Linked DNA regions of Homo sapiens: region 1 is linked to region 2. The links come from fine-mapping of genetic effects on gene expression. A gene starts in region 2. The other region holds a variant in brackets. All regions are shown on one strand. Distances are from middle to middle.

Evidence for each region. PIP is the estimated chance that this variant, and not a neighbour inherited with it, causes the effect.
Region 1: its variant is the best candidate, but not a certain one, in a credible set for the expression of ARHGEF33 in prostate (GTEx, PIP 0.83).

Annotation. Positions count from the first base shown.
Region 1 is chr2:38,811,755-38,817,140 of GRCh38, forward strand. It overlaps DHX57 (DExH-box helicase 57), which reads right to left. Exons shown (of 24, transcript NM_198963.3): 20 at 3,767-3,901; 21 at 2,067-2,141. It also overlaps the pseudogene ASS1P2. Among named protein-coding and RNA genes, the nearest start is that of GEMIN6, 36 kb to the left of the region's middle. The variant G/A (reference allele first, on the strand shown) is at 3,032.
Region 2 is chr2:38,887,455-38,892,840 of GRCh38, forward strand. It overlaps ARHGEF33 (Rho guanine nucleotide exchange factor 33), which reads left to right and starts at 2,421. Exons shown (of 18, transcript NM_001145451.5): 1 at 2,421-2,532.

The DNA of each region.
Region 1 (5,386 bases), 76 kb before region 2:
GGGCCCACGTCTTTCTTATTGGTGAGTTCTTAGATATACAGTCAGATATATCTCCTTTTCCTTTTTGGTTTAGCCTCAAAACTATATTGTCACCTAAAACTTCTTATACCACATTTATGTTCTTTGTTTCTACATTTTAAGTCTCCAAATGATTTTTCCCCACATTCTTTTTCTTTTTTCTTTTTTTAGAGACAGGGTTTTGCCATGTTGCCCAGGCTGGTCTCAAACTCCTGAGCTCAAGCAATCCGCCCACCTCAGCCTCCCAAAGTGCTTGGATTATAGGCATGAGCCAATGCTCCTGGCCCCCACATTCTTTTTTAAATAATCTTTTTATTTTGAAATAATTATAGACTCACAGGAAGCGGCAAAATAGTACAGAGTTCCTTGTACCCTTCACCCAGCTTCCACCAACGGTAAGACCTTACATTACTAGAGTATAATATAAAAACCAGTAAATCTATATCCAAATGACTTTTTTCCCTTTCATAACCACACTACAAAGCACAAACAATTTTTTAAAAGTACATTTCAAATGGTTTGAAAAGCATACAAATGCTAAGCAGAAAATGAGCCATAAATCAGTCAGATGTTAACTGAGGATTTAATAAAAAAAGTTAAGGCTTTGAAAAATGATTCAGTATTCTGCCAAATTGAAACTCTCTGGGGGAAAATGGTGCCTTGTTAGGGATGGATAATCAAAACTCAGGTAAAAGTCCAAGAGCACACTCAAGTAGGGTTTCCAGAAGGCTGGCCACAGGTGGTCTTATGGCAAAGCACTGATTTTTTATTTTTATTTGAGACGGAGTTTCGCTCTAGTCGCCTAGGCTGGAGTGCAATGGTATGATCTCGCCTCACCACAACCTCTGCCTCCCGGGTTTAAGCGATTCTCCTGCCTCAGCCTCCTGAGTAGCTGGGATTACAGGCATGCACCACCACGCCTGGCTAATTTTGTATTTTTAGTAGAGATGGGGTTTCTCCATATTGGTCAGGCTGGCCTCGAACTCCTGACCTCAGGCGATCCGCCCGCCTCGGCCTCCCAAAGTGCTTGGATTACAGGCGTGAGCCATCGTGCCTGTCCCTTATTTACTTGTTTGTTTGTTTGTTTGTTTTTGAGACAGAGTCTCGGTCTGTGGCCCAGGCTGGGGTACAGTGGCATGGTCTTGGCTTACTGCAACCTCCGCCTCCTGAGTTCAAGCAATTCTCCCGCCTCAGCCTCCTGAGTAGCTGGGATTACAGGCATGCACCACCACACCCAGCTAATTTTTGTATTTTTAGTAGATACAGGGTTTCACCATGTTAGCCAGGAGGGTCTTAAACTCCTGACTTCGTGATCTGCCCAACTCGGCTTCCCAAAGTGTTGGGATTACAGGCGTGAGCCACCATGCCTGGCTATTTTACTTTTTGTTCAGAGTAGAGAGTGTAAGATAAACTGTAGTTGAATCAAGTTTCCAACTAACATAGAAAGTTAGTTATATATAGGTTGGCCGACTGACATTTATGTCTATTTTAATTTTTGGAATATCATATGTCAGAAGGATTAAAAATTTTATACAATAAATGTGTTATTGAATAATGTATCCAAACAGATTTTGGGAACTGAAGGATTGAAAATGTATACTAAGTTTTTTTTTTTTGAGATGGAGTCTCCATCTGTCACCCAGGCTGGAGTGCAGTGGCGCAATCTCGGCTCATTGCAAGCTCCGACTCCCGGGTTCATGCCATTCTCCTGCCTCAGCCTCCCGAGTAGCTGGGACTACAGGTGCCCGCCACCATGCCTGGCTAATTTTTTTTGTATTTTTAGTAGAGATGGGGTTTCACCGTGTTAGCCAGGATGGTCTCGATCTCCTGACCTCGTGATCCGCCCGCCTCGGCCTCCCAAAGTGCTGGGATTACAGGCGTGAGCCACCGCACCCGGCCGAAAATGTATACTAAGTTTAAAAGGGTGTGCGTGTGTGCACACATGCGTATATATCTCTTTAAGATGATTAATATGCACATCTTAACTTACATCACTTGGCTACAAATCAAACAAAAAATGGAAAGATCTAGGAAAAATGTTTTGTTACCTGCACTACATTTGGATACAAAGCAGCACACAGCATTGCTGATATCAGCTTGGGGTTCTCAGCATTTGAGTTTGCCTATGAGAAAAGCACAGCATTAATTAACAAGTGATATGGCTATTTCTTTTTTTTCTTTTTGAGATGGAGTCTTGCTCTGTCACCCAGGCAAGTGTGCAGTGGCGCCATCTCAGCTTACTGCAACCTCCGCCTCCCAGGTTCAAGCGATTCTCCTGCCTCAGCCTCCCGAGTAGCTGGGATTACAGGCATACACCGCTATGCCCGGTTAATTTTTGTATTTTTAGTAGAGACAAGGTTTCACCATGTTGGCCAGGCTGGTCTCCAACTCTGGACCTCAAGCAATCTGCCCACCTCAGCCTCTCAAAGTACTGAGATTACAGGCGTGAGCCACTGCGTCTGGCTCTAATATGGCTATTTCTGTCTGTGCTGTAGGATTTACCGTTTTATTATATTTGATCTCTATCTTAAAGCAAAAAAAAGAGCACCTAATTTCTATCTCTTTGCTAGAAAAATTATTTCTAAGTAAAAAAACAAATCTACTGGACCACAGTCACATTGGACCCACTCCAAGGAGCCTACAATGACTTTCTAGACCTTTGCAAAGCGTTACAAAGCCAGTGTTCCTGAGTATAAATGGAGAAAAAAATTATGGTTCATGAGATGTTCAGAATCTCCAGAAAGTGCTAACTGCACTCGGAACACAGGAGCATCAGGTTCATCTTACAGAAGTGCTCTTCCTATAGTTATAGAAAAAGCTGTCTTTTGTTAGAAAAAATGCTGGCCTGATTTGAGAAAATTCTACTGGAAGTCTATTCTATCTCTTATGAATTTATCAAGAAGCAGCATGAAATTTAAAAACCAAAAACAACAGCAACAATGAGCAGAAAACCCTGTTTTTTTTTTTGAGACAGAGTTTCGCTCTTGCTGCCCAGGCTGGAGTGCAATGGCGC[G/A]ATCTCGGCTCACCGCAACTTCCACCTCCCGGGTTCAAGCGATTCTCCTGCCTCAGCCTCCCGAGTAGCTGGGATTACAGGCATGTGCTACCATGCCTGGATAATTGTGTATTTTTAGTAAAGACAGGGTTTCTCCATGTTGGGCAGGCTGGTCTCGAGCTCCTGACCTTGAGTGATCTGCCCACCTTGGCCTCCCAAAGTGCTGGGATTACAGGCATGAGCCACCGTGCCCAGCCCCCTCTATTCTTATGAGTGTTAGCTGACACTTAAAAAAATTTTTTTATACTTTTTTTTTTTTTGAGACAGGGTTTGGCTCTGTTGCCCAGGCTAGAGTGCAGTGTCTCAATCTTAGCCCACTGCAACCTCTGCTTCCTGGGATCACATCATTCTCCCACCTCACCCTCCCACATAGCTGGGAAGACAGGTGGTACACCACCATGCCTGGCTAATTTTTTTGTAGAGAGATGAGGGATTTCACCATGTTGCTCTGGCTGGTCTCGAACTCCTGAGCTCAAGCAATCCACCTGCCTCAGCCTCCCAAAGTGTTGGGATTATAGGCACGAGCCACCGTGCCAGATCAGCTGATATTTATTTGTGCGAAGCAGAAAATCAAGAATGCCATTAACCCACTGCTCAAAGGCTTAAGTGAAGAAGAATGTCTACAAGTGTTCCCAGGTTAAGATTGTATTTAGGTGCTAATTAAAGAGAAATGAGAACCAACTCCACATTCTTTACCTCTTCTCCTGTGGCATCTAAGACACCATCTCCTCCTTGGGCCCTTTTCTCAATTTCCCTTGCTCTGAGCCCTTCCCTTGCAAACCCTATATCCGATAACAGTTCCGTGAATTGTCGTTTGAGGCTGGCCATTTCCTGAAAGAAGTGGAAAAACCTTTAAGCAAGGGCATCAGCATAACAAAGTGTTAAGTCTTACAAAAATGAGTGATTATAAAAATGCATTATTTCAGGGGGTAGCAATGAGGCTCAAGTGGATTCATTCCTCAGGTATGAAGAGGATCTTGTCTGGTCATTTCCAAGAAGCAGCTTTCACTTACGCAAACTGGCAGGCAAACTGAAACGGTTATGCAGAAATGCAAAAATTCAATAAATCCAAGGATCATTTATTTAACTCTAGATTACAATTTTAAACACTCTCATTGGATTTTGGGTAGGCCTGATTTTCCACGAAATTCTTAGGACAGCAAAAAATGCTGTTTGTTTTGACTGGAATTCCAACTCCAAGTGCTGCGGCACTGTCTACTACCTAGCTTTTCCTACTTGCATTTTTGCTCCTGTCCTCTCAGTTCCTTACTCAGGCCTAGAGTGGTTCGTGCTCTCAGTGGAACTCAGCAGAATGTTTCCTCTTTCTCCTTCATTATGGTCTTGCTGGCTCATCTCTTTTCCTAGGAATAGGGACATCATTAAGTGATTCAATATTTTTTTTTTTTTTGAGACAGAGTCTTGCTCTGTCATCCAGGCTGGAGTGCAGTGGCGCAATCTTGGCTTTCTGCAACCTCTGCCTCCTGGGTTCAAGTGATTCTCTTGCCTTAACCTCCCGAGTAGCTGGGGCTACAGGTGTGTGCCACCACGCCCAGCCAATTTTTGTATTTTTAGTAGAGACGGAGGTTTCACCATGTTGGCCAGGCTGCTCTCGAACTCCTGATCTCAGGTGATCCGCCCACCTTGGCCTCCCAAAGCGCTGAGATTACAGGCATGAGCCACCACGCCCGGCCATGGTTTAAGATTGAGATGCTCCTTTTAGTGGCTGAGCACAAATGTGAGAAAGAAAGCACAAACTTCTTTTTCTTGTGGCTACTGTTCTCACATAGGCTGCACATCAGACAAAGAGAAGGAAATAATAATCATTCAAGGAACTGAAAGCTAAGCAACACTACCCTGTCTCTCAATGATGGTTTAAGTATTTTCTTGGAATGTCTCAAGTATACATGGATAACTAGAATATAATTAGGAGTTAAATATACCGCAGTTTCTATTTCATGACAAAGTTTTAATTGAAATCTTAATAAAAACAATCCTACAATCTAAGTTGAAGTTTAGTGAAAAGATGCAACTCTTGTTTGATGGACCTCATAAGTCACAGCAAAATCTACACATATCCTAATGAAAAAAAAATTTAGTAGGAAATGTAATTTAAAAGAAATATCCTCATCTTATATTTAAGCATCTTAATGACTTGAGAAAATATTTCTTATTGCCCTGTACATATAAACACAGCCCCCCACCCACTTTTGATTAGTGATTCTCAGCCTCCAAAGTAGCTGGGACCACAGGCGTGCACCATCACGCCTGGCTAATTTTTATATTTTTTTGTAGAGATGGGGTTTCGCCATGTTGCCC
Region 2 (5,386 bases):
ACACATTTCTGGTGGGAATATAAAATGGTGCAGCTGCTGTGGAATACATTTCCTCAAAATATTAGACATAGAGTTACTACGTGACTCAGCAGTTCCTAGGTATGTACGCAAGGGAATTGACTTGCACACGAATGTTCATAGCAACATTATTCATTGCTATAGTCTGAATGTGTCCTTCCAAAATTCATGTTTAAACCTAATTTCCTCACGACTGTAATCCCAATACTTTGGGAGGCCAAGGTGGGTGCATCATTTAAGGTCAGGAGTTTGAGACCAGCCTGGCCAACATGGTGAAACCTCCTCTCCACTAAAAATACAAAAATTAGCCAGGCGTGGTGGTGTGTGCCTGTAATCCCAGCTACTCGGGAGGCTGAGGCACAAGAATTGCTTGAAACTGGGAGGTGGAGTCTGCAGTGAGCCAAGATGGCGCCACTGCACTCCAGCAGGGGCAACAGAGTGAGACTCTGTCTAAAAACAACAACAACAACAACAAAAACCTAATCTCTACTGTGGTAGTATTAAGAGTTGAGGCCTTTAGGAGGTGATTAGGTTATAAGGACAGAGCCCTCATGGATGGGATTAGTGCCCTTATAAAAGAGATGTGAAGGAGATTGCTTGCTTCTTCTGTCACAAGAGAATGATGCAAGAAGGTGCCATCTTTGAAGAAGAGAGCAAGTCCTTACCAGACACTAAATCTGCTAGTGCCTTGATCTTGGACTTAACAGCCTCCAGAACTGTGAGCAATACATTTCTGTTGTTTAAAATTACCCTGTCTAAGGTATTTTCTTATAGCAGTTCAAATGGACTAAGACATGTATAATAGCCCCAACTGGAAACAATCCAAATGTCCATCAACTAATGAATGTGTAAACAAAATGTCCACATAATGGAATATTATTCAGCCATAAAAAATGAAGTACTGATACTACAACATGGATGAACTTCAGAAACATTGTACTGGCCAGGCAGGTGGCTCATCCTGTAATCCCAGCACTTTGGGATGCCAAGGTGTGTGGATCGCTTGCCAGGAGTTTGAGACCAGGCTGGGCAGCATGGCAAAATCCCATCTCTACAAAAAATACAAAAATTAGCCAGGTGTGGTGGCACATGCCTATAGTCCCAGCTACTTGGGAGGACTGCTTGAGCCCAGGAGGCAGAGGTTGCAGTGAACCAAGATCATGCCACTGCACTCCAGGATGGGTGACAGAGCAAAACTTCATCTCAAAAACAACAAACAAACAAACATTGTACTAAGTGAAAGGAACCAGTCACAAACGGCCACATATTATATGATTCCATTTATGTGAAATGCTCTGAATAGGCAAATCCTTAGGGACAGAAAATAGATTAGTGGTTGCCAGGGGAGGAAGAAATTGGGAGGCATGAGGTTTCTAGAATTAGACAGTGGTGATGGTTGCACAGTCTTGAAAATGTACTAAAAACCACTGAATTGTTCATTTAACAGGGACAAATTTTATGTATGATGTGTAAATTATGTCTCAATTTCTTAAAAAGTAGATCTGTGTGTTGTCATATATTCTATGTCCAGAAAACTTCTTTACTTTTTACATAAGATAATTTAAAAATTACCAGAGCAGTATATGTCAACTACATTTAAAAAATTACAATAAAGACCTGAATGTTTTTGCTGAAACTCTATATTCTAAAACTGACAAAAAATAGTGTACACAATAGATAACTTCTTTGTCATATTTCTCTATTCAAAATCTTGTGAATATTTGTATTTCTCAATATGTTATTGCCAAAAGATGTATATTTTTATTTTTTGCTGTACTGGCACAAATTTGGGTTACAATGTCTTCTAAAATGTTAAAATAAAAATGGCATTTTTGTTAGTTTCTCATAATAATAGCTTTATGGCTAATTTTGAAAGACCCTATTTGTAAGTTTTCAAAGACACATTTTAAGAATTGGACATTTTTGTATATGTTGCTAAACATTAGCTGGCATGGCTTTAGAATTAAATATTATTATTATATGGAAATTCATGAAGAGACAAATACTGGACAAGTTAAGATAAGGTGAGAAGATGTTTTCAGGGACCAGGACATATAATTTAAATTCAAAAACTTCTGGAAAATATAGAAAAGTATCTGCTTTGCTGCAAAATAAATTTTCCCTAATTTTTTTCAATTTATTTAAGGCAGCAAGATATATATTTTACTCTTAAAATATTTAACTTGTATTGCTATGTTAATAACTTTTCAAAGTACAACTTTTCAATTTTCTAGTATACCAAAGATATTCCTCCTAAATGGGTTTCTTCCTTTTTACTCATTGAAACTAAATGCAGTTCAGTTATTTGATTAGTTGATGCTAGAATTTGACCTGGAGCTTATATAATTAGAAGAGACACTAGTTTTCCTCATTTAAAAGCCTGGTTAGCATACTACGGTCTCGTTTCAGGGGAAGTCAAGCCTCTCTACTGCTTCTTTTTATAACCTTTAAGTTAATTCAGAACCCAGATAAGCCTTGATCTGAGGATGATATAACCACCGCAGGCAACATGGGGTAAGTATGCGCTTTTATATGCTTTAAGGGGCACTGAAAGGGGAAACAATTTTATAAGAGATGAAAACCCATCAATCCTTACCACGTGGTGTACTAATTTAAATCCAATATATGCTAACATTTATTTGAGGTAGGCATTCAAAGAAATAACTTTTATTTAAGAGTTATAACAATTTGTAAAACATTTATTTCCTTGCTTAATTTTTATATTATGTCTTAACTGCGCTTTGCAGGTTATCGATAAACTGGAGACTGAAGTTGTTCTGCATATTAATAAATATAGTTGAAGATGAGTTAAATTTTGAGAGCAGTCTTAAAGAAAGGATGCTAGACAGCGTAAATCTGACATGGACATGCCTCTTTGGGATTAAGAATAATTAAAGAATGAAAAAGATTAGGGATGGAGGGAGATTGGTTTATTCCTTTCTAACACAGAAAAAGAATAGGGGAATCTTCAGCATTCACTCCCCTATGTACAGAACAAAAAACATATCCTGATTGAAAATGTGTACTGATTAATTACATGGGGGCTTTATTGGTGAAACCTAATTCTAAACACTTCATGGGGCTTTGGTGTGTAATGAGAAGAACTGAGTTTCACTTAAACATTGTCTTAAGTGAGAATAGCGTTCTATTATAATTAGTATTGGAATTATGTGAGTTTTTATATGCTGAAATAGTATTCTGAATATGTAGAAATCTCTATATCACCCTTTTATATTTTTAATAGCCCCTTTTAATACAAAATCATATTGCTGTAAATGGAATAGCTATTTCATTGAAGGCTACTTCTGAAGGATTCAACATAATGATCAGAAATGTATCCTAGAGAAAAAAGTTTTTGATGCACATTTATTCTAAACATTTTTCACAAACTGAATTAATTAATGTCTACATTTTTCATAACCATGGGCTCTGGAAATGCAATCTAAACTCATTTGAAAACTCAGAGGCTTTTGAAACAAGATGACCATACTATTGGTTTTTTTTTTTTTCTTTTTTCTTTTCTTTTTTTAGACAAGGTCTCACTTTGTCACCTGGGCTCAAGCAATCCTCCCACCTCAGCCCCCACAGGTAACTGAGACCACAGGTGCACACCACCACACCCGGCTAATTTTTGTATTTTTTGTAGAGATGGGGTTTCGTCATGTTGCTCAGGTTGGTCTTGAACTCCTGATCTCAAGCAGTCCTCCCACTTCAGCCTCCCAAAGTGCTGGGATTACAGGTGTGAGCCACCATGCTCGGCCTTATTGTTAACTTTTTCTTAATTCCCTTTATTTACCTTCCCTTTTCTCTGTGTATAAGGGTGTACTTCAACATAGCAGGCCAGTAATAAACTAAGTAATGTAGATACAAAGATCAACTGATCTTCCTCCTTCCCTTCCTCTCTCCTTTCCTCCCTTCCTCTCTCCCTCTTCCTTCCTTTCTTTTTCTTTAATGACAGCAGTTCTTAACCTTTTCGGTGTCAAGAATTGCTTTTAGAATCTTCAGAAACCAGTCCACCATTTCTGCAAAAAAAAAAGTAAAATCACACAAAATTTTGCATACAATTTCAGAAGATTTACAGGTGACCTGAAACCCTATTCCTGGGACCACAGGTTAAGACCCTTAGACTTTGATTTTAGGACTGGAGTATGATTTGTTCAATATTTCTCTTTGTTTGGATTTTTATAAATGTAAGAATCTTTAAATTCATAATTCTTGCTAATCTTCTCAAGGACAGTGTGGAAGATTCCCCACCCGCCCCCCACACAATTTACATGAGTGTGAAACACAGTTTAACCAACATGCATCACATTACTGCTGCTGGGCCCCAAGGACTTGACTAATCACTTGTGCCTTTTGAGAGTGCCAGGAATCACCTTGGGAGTCATGGAAGGAAAAAAAACCCTCATTATGTTATTTGTAAAGCACTTTGAATGCCCCAAATAAGATGAACGAAACAAATCATAAATGCTAATATTACAGAGAGCACTCTTCTGATTGGTATGTTCATGATTATTTTGTTGTCTGTTCATGCCTTTACTGACAAAAAGACAGGGTAGTAAGTATTAACATCTGTTTGAGTCTTCCTAAAATAATCAGAAAAATAAAGAAAAAGTGGCAGCTAATCGGATTCTCAAATTTATCCATTTGAGGAAATCTCTAGAATTTATTTCCTGAGAATGAGGGAGTAGCTGTTTTGGATTTGTCTTTGGGGCCTACTTATCTCAAATGATTTGAGGATATAATTCCCTTATATGGGGCAATGCCAGCCCTTTCCACCTTTCCCCAGGCTATGCTGGCATGGTTTTAGCAAGCAATGAAGAAGCAAATACTGGAAAATTCTTATGCTCTCTAAAAAAATCTCCTCCTCGTAATTTTCACTGGGTTTTTTATGGAGTGTGTGAGTAGGTGGGGTGGGTAGAGATGATGCCTAAAGGTGGGTAAACAGATAACTGGGGAAAAGTAGAAAAACCTAACTGACATCTGCTAAGTACCATAACACCCGGGCAAAGGATGAACAATGGGAAAGAAAGGATGGTTGTATTTCTTTTTTGAGACATTTTAAAATGTGCTTTCCCCATCTCCTAGCAGAGTTAGTCAGTGCACCCCCAATTGACAAAAACAAAAGTTAAGGCTCTGCTAAAATTGTAGAACCAAGTTCATTATTATAGCATATTCAGCCTCCTTTTAGTCTCCTGGTTCAAATAAGTTAGAGTAATTTTAAAAATTATCTTATGACATATTTCCTCCTTCTGAATCTGAGAGTGACTATCCAACTCTTTTTCTTGGGTGAAGCATACATTTGGCTCATGGAGCAACCTTTGAAATGTCGCTTCTATCTGTGCCCTCCTTTCCTTTCTAAGAGTCA